Linked DNA regions of Homo sapiens. The protein of the gene in region 2 interacts with the protein of the main gene of each other region in a pairwise test. Each region holds a gene or a part of one and is shown on either strand. Other genes may lie near its edges.

Region 1 (3,746 bases), on a different chromosome or scaffold from region 2:
TCAGAGCCCTTCCCCTACCCTAGAGGCCCTGGCCAATCAGGGCTCACCTGGCCCTGGAGGACATGGGTCGTGGGGGAAACGGGCCGCAGCTGCCCCAGGCCCTGTCCTCTGGGTCTTGTCCACCCCTCCCCTGCCCAAGGACAAGGTGGCCCCTGTCCCCAGGGAAGGGGCCTGCCTGGTGCTTCCCTTTCTGTGCTGAGGCTCCTGAGGCAGCTCCCAGCCCTCAAGCCTGGGCAGACCTCACAGTGGGCCTGCTGTTCCAGTTGCTGTTTGGGGACCCAAACATACCATCTTCCCCATTTAGAATGGGGGTCCCTCCAGTGCCCTGGCTCTGTACACCTCCCCATAGAAGAGCTGAGACAAGAGTGGCCCCCAGTGCCGGTCCCTGGGGCCTAGGATGCTTAGGACCAGCTTCCAGGGGAGGGATGGGGGCACTGCTTGGCTCCGCCAGGCTCTGCCGGAATGGGGGCACCATTCCCCTGAAGAGTCTCTCAGTCTGCCTGAGCATTAGGGTCTGGGCCCCCAGGGCCACCACACTGTCATGGGGCAGGCCAGGGCACCTAGGACTTCTCAGAGGTGCCAGTTCTTTGTTTTTGCCAACCGGGCTTGCCTGCTCTGTCAGCCAAGTGGCGTGTCTGGGGTAGGGGGGTCGCTTCCCAGCCAGTGAAGCCACCAACTTCTGTGGAAATGCTCGGAGCTGTGTCCTCAAGGGCTCTTTATTTCCCCAAGACAACAGATTGCTTGTGTCCTAGACAATGAAGTTTTCATCCCCAGCCTGCATCCTGGACCAGCCCGCCACTGCCCCGCTGGCCACCTCTCTGCATCGGGCACCCAGTGCCAGGGACTGGTTGGGCAGCTCAGCCTCTTTGCCATTCACCTGTTTTGTCACCCAGACTGGAGTGCAGTGGCTTAGTGTCAGCTCACTGCAACCTCCGCCTCCTGGGTTCAAATGATTCTCCTGCCTCAGCCTCCTGAGTAGCTGGGATTACAGGTGCCTACCACCATGCCCACCTATTTTTTGTATTTTTAGTAGAGACGGGGTTTCGCCATGTTGACAGGCTGGTCTCGAACTCCTGAGCTCAAGTGATCCACCCGCCTTGGCCTCCCAAAGTGCTGGGATTACAGGCGTGAGCCACTGCACCTGGCCTGTCATTGATCTGTTCAGTGGCCATTTGGCCTTTGCTCTGACTTGGTCACTCTGGGTTGAGTGTCCCCAGCTGTTCAGGGAGAATGATAATATTTACATCTGTCCCTGGGGCAGCCCTGAGAATGTGGACAGCTGAGGCCTGCAAAGCACTGGGGACCCAGCCTGGCCAAAGTGCTTGAGGGCAAAACTGATGGGGCTGGGTGCCATGGCTCACGCCTGGAATCCTAGTACTTTGGAAGGCCGAGGTGGGTGAATCACTTGAAGTCAGGAGTTTGAGACAGCCTGGCCAACATGGCAAAACCCCACCTCTACTAAAAATACAAAAATTATCTGGGCGTCGTGGTGCACGCCTATAATCCCGGCTACTCGGGAGGCTGAGGCAGGAGGATCTCTTGAACTCAGGAGGCGGAGAGTACAGTGAGCTGAGATTGTGTCAGTGCACTCCAGCCTGGGCGAGGGAGATTCCATCTCAATACAAACAAACAAAAACAAACAAACTGATGGGGCTGAGGAGCCACTAAGGCTGTACAGCTGGGGCAAGGCTGGAATGGTGTGAAGGTGTCGGGAATGCCTGGGCAGGGCCCGAGTTTCCTGTCTTATTTCCTGAGGACGTGAGAACTGAGCAGACCTCCCTGGCCTTGGCCAGGCTCCCGTAGCTGCCGTGGAAAGGAGGTTAAGGTTGGTGGTGTAGATGGGGGCCCTCACAGTGAGTCCATCTTGGCCCCCAGTGGCCTGGGAGCCGATTCTCATCCCTACTGGCTTGGTTGGGAGGTGCTGGGCCACACGCCTACATTCACTCCACCTCTTTCCATCTTTCTTTTTTTTTTTTTTTTTTTTGAGATGGAGTCTCGCTGTGTCGCCCAGCTTGGAGTGCAGTGGCACGATCCCGGCTCACTGCAACCTCCGCCTCCCAGGTTCAAATGATTCTCTTGCCTCAGCCTCCACCACCACACCCGGCTAATTTTTGTATTTTTCATAGAGACGGGGTTTCACCATGTTAGTCAGGTTGGTCTCAAACTCCTGACCTCAAATGATCCGCCTGCCTCGGCCTCCCCAAGTGCTGGGATTACAGGATTACAGGCATGAGCCACTGTACCCGGCCATCTTTCTGTCTTTCTCTGAAGTCCACTTGGTAGCCCTGTGCGGGGCACCCATGGTGACGTGAGAGAATGCCAGCCCCGTTGTCTTAGGTCTTTCACGCCAGGCCAAGCAGTGGTCTTTGGGGAGAGGAGAGGTCTGAGCCGAGGGGTCTTGAAGGATGAGTAGGAGTTTGCTGGCCGCCCCAGGGGGACAGGCTGCCCTATGCGGTGGGAGCTGGGGTGCCCAGAGCCTCAATGCCCACCCCATAAGGCAGAACCACGACTCCCGAGCCACGTGCTGGGGTTTGGGGTAGGACAGTGAGTGTGGCAGTGAGTTGCGAAGGAAGAACTTGGACTGTGGATGCAGAAGACCTGGGTTCAAATCCTGCCTGGCTCACTTCCCAGGCGGTGGCTCCAGACAAGTCACTTGGGGAGCACCGTTGGGAGGTGAGGGCGAGCCCACAAACATGCATAGCTTCAGGGTCCTGCTCTGCCCCGCACCCCGTTCCCCATCCAAGCCTCAGTTTCCTCATCTGTAAAAATGGGCTACAGGAGGCTTCTGCGAAGTAACGCACATCAAGAGCTTTGTTAGCACAAGCTCATCGAATATTCTCCTTGTTCTTGTTATTCTTGGCTTCCAAGCAGCCAACCAGAGCGGGTACCAGGTGGGGTTGTAGGGGCTGCCTGATCCTGCCCTCCTCACCTGTGGCCCAAGGGTGGTGACCTGGCATCCTCTAGGTATGGGGCAGGCGGCATGCGTGGGAGGCTCTGCCAGCCTTTTTGGCATTTTGTTTGTTCACTTGACAGACATTTTCTTGGGTGTTTATTGTGTGCCAAGCACTGTGCCAGGACCTGATTCCTGCCCTTGGGGCAGACTGGCAAAAGATAAATGCCACCTGACAGGTGAGAGAGTGGCAAGAGTGACGGAGGAAGAACTGGGTCCGGGAGCAGGGTAATTCGGAGAGTAGAGTTTTAGTAGCATAGCAGGGAGGGCCTTCTTGGCCAAGTGGCATTTAAGGGGCCACACGAAGGGGATGAGGGAGGGAGCCAGGTGTGTGCCTGGAGAAGAGCGTTTCTGGCAGCAGGAGCAACCCGTGCAAAGGCCCTGAGGCAGGATCGCACCTGGCGTGTTGGGGGAACAGCATGGAGGCCTGTGTGGCTGGAGCAGAGTGAGCCGGGGGGGGGGCGGGAGGGAGGAGGGGAGGGCCCTGTGGGCAGCGGGGAGGACTGTGGCTTTTCCCCTGCGGAAGGTGGGGGCCACGGAGGGTTGTCTGCAGAGGAGGGAGGGAGGTGCCCTGGCTCGGCACTCACGGGCGCTCTCTGGTGGCTGCTGCAGGAGGACAGCGTTTTGGTTGGTGATGAGCGTGAACACAGGGACCGCACAGACAATACCTTCCAGGGTCTGAGAGTCTGGAATGGAATCGCCCAGGGAGACATGGTGGGGTGCACCCCTCGTCCTCCCTTCTCTTGGATCTGTTTCGGATGTGCTGAAGGATTGATTCTGAGATGCGAGAGAAAGG
Region 2 (3,746 bases):
CACGCCCCCAGCACCGCAGGCCATGCCAGTTACTACCCGGGCCAGGCTCGGGGACACAGCCTCATGGTCCTGAGTAGACGCAAAGGCCCATAGGCTGCGGCCTTGGGGCAGGAGCTTCTCCAGGGAGTGTGAACTTAGGCGCGCAGTAAGCGCGTGCTTGTGGTCACCACGTGGTCAGATTCGCTGTGGTGAATCTGTACCAACCCAAACTTGCCGGGAGTACAGAAAACTCTCAGAGCACTCGCACAGAAGAGCCAACAGCAAAGGTGCGTGTTCAGTTCTTTATACATCCTGGGAACCTCAGTACCAAGCCAGGCTCCAGGCTGACAGCCTGATGCTCAGAACTGCGTGACCGTTAAAAAGCACTGGCCCTCTCCGAGCTTCCTTGCCTATGAAATGGGGGGACCCTCTCCCAGCCTCCTTGCCTATGAAATGGGGGGACCCTCTCCCAGCCTCCTTGCCTATGAAATGGGGGGACACTCTCCCAGACTCCTTGCCTATAAAATGGGGGGACCATCTCCCAGCTTCCTTGCCTATGAAATGGGGGATCCTCTCCGAACTTCCTTGTCTGTGAAATGGGGGGACCCTCTCTGAACTTCCTTGCCTGTGAAATGGGGGGACCCTCTCCCAGCTTCCTTGCCTATGAAATGGGGGACCTTCTCCGAACTTGTCTGTGAAATGGGGGGACCCTCTCCCAGCTTCCCTGCCTATGAAATGGGGGGAGCCTCTCTGAACTTGTCTGTGAAATGGGGGGACCCTCTCCCAGCTTCCTTGCCTGTGAAATGGGGGGACCCTCTCCCAGCTTCCTTGCCTATGAAATGGGGGACCCTCTCCCAGCTTCCTTGCCTGTGAAATGGGGGACCCTCTCCGAGCTTCCTTGCCTATGAAATGGGGGGACCCTCTCCCAGCTTCCTTGCCTATGAAATGGGGGGATCCTCTCCGAGCTTCCTTGCCTATGAAATGGGGGGACCCTCTCCCAGCTTCCTTGCCTATGAAATGGGAGACCCTCTCCGAGCTTCCTTGCCTATGAAATGGGGGGACCCTCTCCGAGTTTCCTTGCCTATGAAATGGGGGGACCCTCTCCCAGCTTCCTTGCCTATGAAATGGGGGTCTAGAGGCAACTGAGGTTTAACCAAGGTCATGCATACAAACAGCTTGGCTAGGGACGTAGCAGAGTAAGAATTCCATAAAATGTTAATATTTTTCCACTGAAAATGTCTACCAAGTGTATGAAGTTCGATTTGCTTCTCAGTACGGACTGGGCTTGAACATTTCCATCTTTTTCCCCATAAACGCTCTGAGGAGACAAGCCCTGTGAACGTGCACCAGCTGGAACACACCGGTGCCCTTCTGGGGCTCTGGGGATTTCATCAGATTCTCAAAAGCTGCTGCTGATACAGATCATGTTCTTGGCCAGTCGCTGCTCTTAAACGCCCATGACCTTGCCCCCAAACATGAGCCACTCCAGGCATGAAGCTGCAACCCAGAGCCCATCCTGAGAGGCCACGACCTGTCAGCACTTCTGAGCTGTCCTAGAGGCGTAGGCACTTCTGGGGCTGACTCGGGGACACAGCCATCCCCAGGCACCCAGCGTGCAGCCACCACACGTGGCCACCAACGTGAGGCAGAGGGTCCTCAGCATGGGTCATGCGGCTGCTTATTTATTTACTTATTTAATTTTTTTTTTTTTTTTTTTTTTTTTTTTTGCGACAGAGTCTTGCACTGTCACCTGGGCTGGAGTGCAGTGGTGCAATCTCAGCTCACTGCAACCTCTGCCTTCCGGGTTCAAGCCATTCTCCTGCCTCAGCCTCCCAGGTAGCTGGGATTACAGGCACCTGCCACCATGCCCAGCTAACTTTTTGTATTGTTTTTTTTAGTAGAGATGGGGTTTCACTATGTTGGCCAGGCTGGTCTCAAACTCCTGACCTCGTGATCTGTGCGCCTCGGCCCCCCAAAGTGCTGGGAGTACAGGCGTGAACCACCGCGTCCGGCTGGGGCTGCTTATTTAAATCCCCTAGAAAGAGGGATTCTCCAGCTACACCACACCCTCACTTGGAAGGACCCTCCTCCCAGAGAGGGAGCTGTGGAAAAAGCCTGACCTGCCCCACAGGGCAGTAGGTCGAGCCTGGCTGGTGAGCAAGGAGGTACGGGGATCCCTGAGGCCTCCCACCCAGGGCCCAGGGAGCCTGCCTGCTGTGAGCACTTCCTCCAGTCCTGATGGACTCGGCTCTGCCCGGAGCCCCCGGTCTCTGCACACACAGCTGACTGGAGAAAGCCACTTCCATCTCATGGACAGGGACAGAACAAGGCTGAGGGAGGTGAGCAATGCAGCCAGGCCCGGGGGCTACAATGGCTGCTGGCAAAACCCACCATCTCAGCAATAGTTCAGCGCGAAGGGCTGAGAACTGTGAGAAGCGAATCGCGACGTTTATTTTGCTCTTCCTTAGCCTCTTGTGGCAGATTTGGGGCAAAACAACAGATTAAATCTTGTGTACATATATTTACATGTGGATAGACACACTGCAGAAGAGGTCTCTGTTTTGTAAACTCTAACGACAGATAACTGCAGATGGAGCTTTTTTTTTTTTTTTTTTTTTTGAGACAGTCTTGCTCTGTCGCCCAGGCTAGAGTGCAGTGGCGTGATCTGGGCTCACTGTAACCTCTGCCTTCTGGGTTCAAGCAGTTCTCCTACCTCAGGCTCCTGAGTAGCTGGGATTACAGGCATGTGTGCCACCATGCCTAACTAATTTTTGTATTTTTAGTAGAGACGGGGTTTCACCATGTTGGTCAGGCTGTTCTTGAACTCCTGACCTCGTGATCCACCCACCTTGGCTTCCCAATGTGCTGGGATTACAGGCGTGAGCCACTGCGTCCGGCTCAGATTGGGCTTTTTTTATGCCAAAGGGTACCCGTGAAGGAAACATTAAATTTTAAAGGGTGTTTCTGACACAAGGCTGTGACAGCCAACTGCAGGCTGCGCCCCATCCTAGGCACGGGAGGCCTCAAGCAGATGCCTTAGCTGGCCTTGACCGGTCTTTCATGTCACCAGCTGCAGCCTGTCTGGAGTAAAAGACTTGATGAAGCGGGGAGGAAGGTGATGCTGAAGTGGTAACAGAAGTGTAGCTGGGGATGCACGTCACGTTCCTAAGAGCTCAATGCTTCTCTTTTTCTTTCTTTTTTTGAGATGGAGTCTCGCTCTTGTTGCCCAGGCTGGAGTACAATGGCACAATCTCGGCTCACTCCAAGCTCCGCCTCCAGGGTTCAGGTGATTCTCCTGCCTCAGTCTCCTGAGTAGCTGGGATTACAGGCACCTGCTAACACACCTGGCTAATCTTGTATTTTTTTAGTAGAGATGGGGTTTCTCCATTTTGGCCAGGCTGGTCTTGAACTCCCAACCTCAGGTGATCCACCCACCTCAGCCTCCCAAAGTGCTGGGATTACAGGCGTGACCTACTACGCCCGGCCAGCTCAATGCTTTTCTGAAAGGGGTGAGCAAGAAGACAGTTAGAAAAAGATGCATGATGACGTTCACCTCTGCTTCCTCTAGCCCCTAGCCCCTAGCCCCTAAAATGACAGAAAATGGAAAACAAGTGGGACGCGGTGGCTCCTGCCTGTAATTCCAACATTCTGGGAGACCGAGGTGGGAGGACTGCTAGAGCCCAGGAGTTCAAGACCAGTCTGGGCCTGTCTCTACAAAAAATTAAAAAATCATCTGGGTATGGTGGCATGCGCCTGTGGTCTCAGCT

The links. The genes of interacting proteins can lie anywhere in the genome.
Region 1: the proteins of RAB11FIP3 (region 2) and RAB11B interact in a two-hybrid assay, tested with the Homo sapiens proteins (one study listed by BioGRID).

Annotation. Positions count from the first base shown.
Region 1 is NC_000019.10:8,393,308-8,397,053, forward strand, and holds part of RAB11B (ras-related protein Rab-11B), read left to right. Parts: intron 1-3,746. UniProt on the Homo sapiens protein: The small GTPases Rab are key regulators of intracellular membrane trafficking, from the formation of transport vesicles to their fusion with membranes.
Region 2 is NC_000016.10:498,648-502,393, reverse strand, and holds part of RAB11FIP3 (rab11 family-interacting protein 3), read right to left. Parts: exon of another isoform or gene 2,407-3,746; intron 1-2,406. UniProt on the Homo sapiens protein: Downstream effector molecule for Rab11 GTPase which is involved in endocytic trafficking, cytokinesis and intracellular ciliogenesis by participating in membrane delivery. Recruited by Rab11 to endosomes where it links Rab11 to dynein motor complex.